2 linked regions of the Homo sapiens genome follow. The protein of the gene in region 1 interacts with the protein of each later gene in a pairwise test. Each region holds a gene or a part of one and is shown on either strand. Other genes may lie near its edges. The genes, in order: RBP3 and NID2.

What was found.
Region 2: the proteins of RBP3 (region 1) and NID2 interact in a two-hybrid assay, tested with the Homo sapiens proteins (one large-scale study listed by BioGRID).

What each region holds. Positions count from the first base shown.
Region 1 is NC_000010.11:47,351,363-47,355,181, forward strand, and holds part of RBP3 (retinol-binding protein 3 precursor), read left to right. Parts: coding exon 1-176; intron 177-1,962; coding exon 1,963-2,153; intron 2,154-3,819.
Region 2 is NC_000014.9:52,059,015-52,062,833, reverse strand, and holds part of NID2 (nidogen-2 precursor), read left to right. Parts: intron 1-2,477; coding exon 2,478-2,710; intron 2,711-3,819.

The sequences.
Region 1 (3,819 bases):
AGATGGCCACCAAACTGAGCGGTCTGCAGAGCCGCTACTCCAGGGTGACCTCAGAAGTGGCCCTAGCCGAGATCCTGGGGGCTGACCTGCAGATGCTCTCCGGAGACCCACACCTGAAGGCAGCCCATATCCCTGAGAATGCCAAGGACCGCATTCCTGGAATTGTGCCCATGCAGGTGAGACCCAAGAGAGACCTGGCTGAACCCAGTCCCGGGAGTGAGTTGACCCATTGTCCGCACATGCAGGGCTCTGTGCACAGTGCGTGACAATGGCTTTTAGATTTGTTCTCACGTTTAAGTTTTGACCGGTCAAGTCCTTTCCTCTTTCTCAACCTGTTCCATCCACTCTCTGTGACCCTGGGGTTGCTGAACACCTCTGTAGAACATTCATATTAGGTTGGTGCAAAAGTACTTTCAATGGCAAAACCCGCAATTACTTTTGCACCCACCTCACAGGAAGCCAGTTTGAAAGCCAACCAATACTCACAGGAAGCCAGTTCGGAAGCTCCTGGGATAGAAGGCATTTCAGCCTTGGCTGGGTGGAAGGTGAGTGTTGGCAGGGCTTCTCATTGTCAGTGCTAGGGAAGAGGCCAACACCTGTCAGAGGTGGCCAATGGACTTCACCAAGTGCCCCACGCTGGCCGAGAGCTCCACCTAGGCAGCACTCACACCTCCACACTGTTCTACCTGTGGTCTGCTGCATCGTCACAATTGGGCAGGGCAGCATTTGCCATGGGATCCCTTGCAAGGAGGGTCTGAGACCAGGGCTTGGGTGCAGGCGCTTTGTCTGGGAGGCGGTTACTGAAGCAGGCATGAAGGAGGGAGCAGGGAGAGTGGGTTGGGAAGCTGACAGGCAGGTGCCTCAAAGCTGTTCTGCTGAAGCCAGGACCCTGACGAGTGCAGGGATGCTCCCAGGCATAGCCCTCTGCAGGCAGGGCCCAGTGGTTCCTGTCCCGCATTGGCCAAGAGTTGCCCTGAGACATGCCTCAGGGTGGGGCAGGCTCCCTCTTCTTGGAGAAGGCCTGAGCTACGGGTGGAAAGGCAGGGCTGTGCTATAGGAGAGCCTGTCAGTGGGGTCGGGTGCAGCTGAAAGCAGAGGGGGCTGAGAGTGCCAAAAGCATCTACTACAGAATTGTTATCCCCATTTTCCGCAACTGAGGCCCGGAGAGGAGCAGAGGGGAGTGGCCTGAGGCCAGAGAGCTGTGACTGAGGGCAGGGCAGGGCCTGGAGGGCAGTGTCTCTGTCAATGAAGTCTCCTTGCCTGTCAATCTCACCAAGACCTGCCTCCCTCCAGCAGCCTTAGAGAGGGAGGAGGAGGTGCATCCACGTGCGAGTAGCCTGTGCTAGGCTTGCAGAATCCCCAGTTTCCAAATCAACATCTCCTTCCTTTCCAGTATAGCCAAGGTTCACGATTTGGAGTCAGATGTGGATTCAGATTCTGGCTCCACCACTTACTGACTGTGTGACCTGAGACTAGTTACTTAATCTCTCTGTGCTTCAGTTTTTCCATGGAAAAGATGGGGATCGTGTTATCTCCTGTACAGGTGGCTGTGAGGATGATGATAAGCTCTACAAAGTGCTTAGTACCGGGCCAGGTGCCTGGTAAAGGTAACTAACATCTTCCAATCCTGCCCCAGTGGAGCAGCTTAGAGACATAGGAAGTATCTGGTAAGGTTGGAGAGGTCAGAGGGGAGTCCATTCCTGGGCCTTCTAGCTCAGGACACCAGGGCATGTGGGTGGCAGACAGGAGCATCCTCTGCAAGGAGGCTGCCCATAGATCACACATGTCCCAGTGGCATGTCACATCCAGACATGCCACTGGGAAAGTCCCTGGTGTCTACTAATTCCTTCAGAAATGTTAGTTCCTGTCCCATGCCCTTAATATTTCCCATGGCGCCTGCTTTCCTGGGCTCTAAAACTGGCTGCTCCTCCTGACACTGAGTAGGACCTCCAACTCTTACAGATCCCTTCCCCTGAAGTATTTGAAGAGCTGATCAAGTTTTCCTTCCACACTAACGTGCTTGAGGACAACATTGGCTACTTGAGGTTTGACATGTTTGGGGACGGTGAGCTGCTCACCCAGGTCTCCAGGCTGCTGGTGGAGCACATCTGGAAGAAGATCATGCACACGGATGCCATGATCATCGACATGAGGTCAGTGGCCAGGGGTCAGTGCTTCCTAGCCAGGACGCAGGGCTGCCAGGGGACAGTCAAAGCTATGGGCCACAGCAGGGAAGAAAAGGAACCCTGTGACACAGCAGAGGACCTGAGGGGGGCCAGGCCTCCTGCCTATCAGGGCTTCGGCCAGCTAGCCCAGCAGATCTGCTGTCATTGCAGGTGGGGCCCAGCACTGGTAGTTTTTGCAAGCTTCTCCAGTGATTCCAATGTGCATTCCAGATTGAGAATTACCCCAGATTTGCCTGGTCATAGGATTCAGTGGGGAGGAGAGGAAGGAGATGTTAAAAACACTGATTCCTGGGCCCCACTCCCCTCTTACTGACTCAGAAGCTCCAGGGGACAGGCCCGATAATCTCTATTTGACAGGCATCCCAGGTGATTCTGATGGTCAGTGGTGTGTGAGACAGCCAGGCCCCCCACCTGGGAGTGTGCCTCACATCATACAAAATCAACACATGACAACCCTGGTCATATGAATCGTACAGGCAGAATTTGGAAATCACACAGGGAAAATTTAGAAGTTAATCACTATTGTTAACAAAAGAATTCTTTGCATCACCAAATGATTGTCAGAAGGATGTCTTCAGCTAGCCACCTCCCCTCTGTTTCTGTAAAAATGTGCCTCATATGTCATGAGTTTACCTCATGGACCAGGGGTAGGAGGTGGATGAGTACCCTCAGGCAGTGGCCAGACCTGGCATCCCATGACTCTGGGGTCCATTGGTGGACATGCCCCAGCACCCTCCCTGGGCAGGTTGCCTTCCTCAGACGGGACCCTTCCATGCTCCCGTGTTGTCTGAAAGAAGTGGCAGGGGGTGGCAGACCAGAAGCATTCACCCAGCTCCAGTTCTCTAGCCCTCAGCGCTCACTCACATGGTTCTTAGTGGTCACTAGGTGGCTCTCGGTCCTGCACCCACTGCTTCTCCTCCCTGGGAGATAAAACATTAGCCCTGGCTCCAGTTCTGTGTGTGTTCACAGCCTGAGCTTGAGGCTCCTGGGGTCTCTCTGATCATTTTATTCTTTAGAAGTTCTGTTGAGCACCCAAATGACACTCATGCTAAGTCTCTTTCTTCTGAATATGCCATTTACACTTTTTAAAGAGGAGATGGCCCCAGCCTGCAAGTGCACTTTGCTTAAAGACCCTCCCACCCCTGAGGTTTGTTTGGAGGTTCAGACACTGACATCACAGGCCCCGAACCCAGCCAGGCCATCCCAGGCCATCAGTTGGACGAGGCTCCTTAACACATCACTAGCCCCAGTGGGGAGACAGGGGCCCAACGAGGTCACACAGTGGGACAAATCTAAATGGCCTGGGAGAAATACAGGCTCCCCTGCTCCCAATGCAGCTCCACAAGCCTGAATATTTCAATACACTAAGTGCCCTGTTAAGACACCTGAACTAAGACAGCTGGTAGGTGTCATAAGATTGTCACAGAATGCAACGGGAAAAACAATGTTTCCCAAAATGTGTTCCACTCATAGGAAGATATGGGTGCAGGGGAGCAGTCCATGGTCAATAAATGGGGGAAATTTATCAACAAGTTTCTGACTGCAGGACTTGTCAGGGCCTTTAATATATTAACATGTATTAATTACATAGCAGAAGGAAAGGATAACATATTTGATCACTAAGTTTCTTGTT
Region 2 (3,819 bases), on another chromosome or scaffold:
TTGAATGAATGAATGAATAAAATAAAGTGCTAAATGCCCAGAGTTCACAGCAAAAAGTCAGACTCTCCTCTTCACAGCTCTGTTTACTACTCTCTTCCCCCCTTCCCCATCCCCTTCAATTCTTCACAGTCTCTACAACCTCCTTATCTTATGGAATTTCTCTAAATTTAGAACCAGGATTCTCTCCTATCTCACATTTATTATGGCAGATCAATGCCAGGAGCTTTGAAAGCTTAGCTTTTTGAAATGGGGTTTTTTCTCCTTCCTCTAGTACTTTTCTTTCCCTAGTTGATTTTTCTTTATTCTGACTAATGTATAACTCTGAAGTTATTGAGTCCACATTAGTTGATGATGTCGACTATCTTATGGATAGACATGAGGCAGAACAGCCTTTGTTTATATTTGGCAGTAGTTGTGGCTTCCTAGTATTGAGAAGCTCTAAAAACATTTCTTGCTTTTTGTTTTTGGAAAAGTCAAGCTTTGCTGATGAACAATCAACAACTGGAACAATAACAAATAAACTAGGCACCTGTTACTTTGTGAATTGAATGAATGAAAAAAGCAAAGCAAGATGTTGTTTTTTCTGGGTTAGAGAACTAAAAGAACTGCTGATTGTATTTTATTTTCTCTTGAAAAGTGTGTTACATCTATATTTCTTTATCCTATTAGCAAAACCTCAAAACCTTACTTTGAAATTAAACATTGAAAGGAAAAATTAACATTAGAAAAGAGCTAGAACAACTGTGGGAGTAGACTTAGAACAAAGGGAAGAGCCCATTCCTTCCTTGCTGTTTCCTTCAGTGAAATGTGATGTTCTTCTCTGTGCCCGAGTTTGTCTGTCTAGCAGAATGGAAAGGTAATGATACTTACCAGTAAATAATATTTCTAAGAGTCACATTATTTGTGAAGTAAGTTGTGTTTTAAAAATACCTTCCCAGTTCCTTACTAAATTGTAAAAGTAGTGTGATTTAGTGAGAGAGAGACAGTTTCAGAAGCCTAAACATAACAGCTTTTTGAGAATCAAGCACTGTTCACAGATCTTTAGGAGGAGCGGTCGCTGAATGAAGGTAAAGGCAAAAATCTCATCTTGTTGAAAATATGAGGGTAAACAGAATGTTAAGGAGTGATCCTATAAGGACCTGGGTGTTGAATTGGCAGCTGATTCAGGCTCCTGGTCCCTCTCTGGTCTGTGTTGGCTCCTGCAGTGTTTATAACATTCACCAGCTGCCTCTGTGACACCTCCCAACCTCCACCCTGAGATCCTGGACACACACCCCGGCTCTTGGCCTCTACCACCTTCTCCAGTGACTCTCCTACCATTTCAACCATGGCTGTTTCCCAGTCCTACACCGTGAGACTCTCCTGGGCAAAGCCTGTCTTTTGCTCCTTCACATCCTCAGCATCAAGCATAACGTCTGGTGCTTAAGTAGACACTTGGCTGTTTGAATTAGTGTATGAATGAATAAATGAATGGTGTTTACAAACATATAAACAACTAACCAAGCATAATGAGGTGAATGCTCACTAGAGATGCCCATAAAGGTGTTACAGAGGTTCAGAGAACAGAAATTATTCTATAGGGAATCACAAACACCTCTGAGTGGCAGCATTTGAAGGTTAGGAGGCTTTCTAGGCACAGGGAACCACGAACAAAGTGTAGAAGCATCCAAGGACATGGTACAAATGGGGACTATTAAATAGTCTGACAAAGATGCAGTGGAACTGAGCCTGGGAGGGACGTATGCAGCCAGGTTACAACTCACCTTGAATGCCATGTTGAGGAGGGGTTAGGGTGTCCTAGGGTGTGGGCTCTAGAGCTGGCTGGCCCACCACCACATACTTGCCACCTGACCTGAGGAAGACCTGTTAGCCCCTGTGTCTTTTTCTCATCTGTGAAATGAGGATAACCCTGATGCTCGTATGAAAGGGTAGATGGAAGAGGAAAGAGAGTGATGCTGTGAGACAGTAAGGAGGCCTTTTGACCAACTAGTGCCTAACACAGTGCCTGCCCATAGTGGTCATTTAATAAATGGATGAATGAATGAATGAATGAATGATGCAAATGAGAGATGCTGAGTGCCTAGGGTTATAAACTAGGGCAGTGACTGCAGGATGGACAAGTTAATTTTGCTGATTGCTCTTAGCTCTGAAAGAGTTTACATGAGAGAAGTTTGAAACCTTACAAAGTATATATTTTTTAACCTATGTTTTACCAATGCGTATTTCAACTATTAATCTAAATTGACAAATGGTATTTGCAATAATAAATAATATTGCTTATGAAATTATATTGTTAACTTGAAGAGGAAATTTTAAAGAAGGTTATGTTTAAAAACAATTTGGAGGAATCCTGAAAAAGGGGAAGTTCTTTGCACGTTATGATGCTTTGCTTGCATTCTGTTTCTTTCTTCTTTTATTTGTTTTTTACAGGATGTTTCTCTCTCTCTCTCTCTCTTTTTTTTTTTTTTTCCTCACAGCTGAACACTTTCCAGGCAGTTTTGGCATCTGATGGGTCTGATAGCTACGCCCTCTTTCTTTATCCTGCCAACGGCCTGCAGTTCCTTGGAACCCGCCCCAAAGAGTCTTACAATGTCCAGCTTCAGCTTCCAGCTCGGGTGGGCTTCTGCCGAGGGGAGGCTGATGATCTGAAGTCAGAAGGACCATATTTCAGCTTGACTAGCACTGAACAGTCTGTGAAAAATCTCTATCAGTAAGTAACATTGAGCTGAAGCCCTTTCCTATTTGAATATAAGGACTTTTAGGAAGTACCTGAACACAAGTGACCATAAGACCATTACATAATATATTGGTGGCTTCTAAGTAAGGCATCAAGTCAAAACCAAGGAACTAGATTCAACCCTGGAAGGATCAAGTTCACCAAAACATAAAAGGTCCTTTATTTTTCCTGCTCTATTGGGTATAGATACTGGAAACAGAACAGTATGTGTGTGTATTTGTAGAGCCACTGAGGCTTGCTATGAAAAACATTGCTCTTGGAACCACATAAAAATATCCAGTCATAAACTGCCCAGTTTGAGGTTTTCCAGATTAATCATTTCACAGGAGGAAACATTGTGATTTAGTCTTTTGGACAGATACTGTTAAACATTAAATTGAGCAATGTAATTTGCAGGAAAAATAACTAAGATTTATAGGTTTCCAGAAGTCTGAGGATGTCTCTCTGGCTTCATTACCTAAAATGAATTGAACCCATTCCTTAGACTCATCAGTGTCTGCCCATAATGGGCATTTAATAAATAGATGGGTGAATGAATGAATGATCCAGAGGGCTTACTTAGCTAGTGCAATAATAAGCTCTTCTGCATTTTGCCAGTACAGATAGTGCCAGTAGGATATTTATTGACTTCAGGGTTTTTTGGGGGGTGTGTGAGGGGAGGTAGGGGTGCCCTCGCTTTTATTCGTTTCCTGAATATAGAAGCCAGATAGAATACATTGGTTACTTCCTGGCCTCCTTTAACTGCTTCTTGACTTCATTAAATCAATCCTGGGTAGGTATAGAAACACCTTACACTTTTAGCATGCCATCCACTCTGCTCGGCTACCAGAAAGAGACCACTATAGCCAGGTTTGCTTACTCAGAGCTGACATTTATTGAAAACTTACTACTTGCCAAGCATCATGCTAAACACTTTCCAGATGTTATCTTAATTAAAACTCACAAGAATTGTAGGTTAGTACTACTATTTTCCCAGTTTTACAGAGGAGCTTAGGGAAGTTAAGTAAATTGCCTATGATCTCAAAGTTAAGTGGCAAAGCCAAAATCCAAGCTCAAGTCTGGAGTGCTGAACTACTTATTTT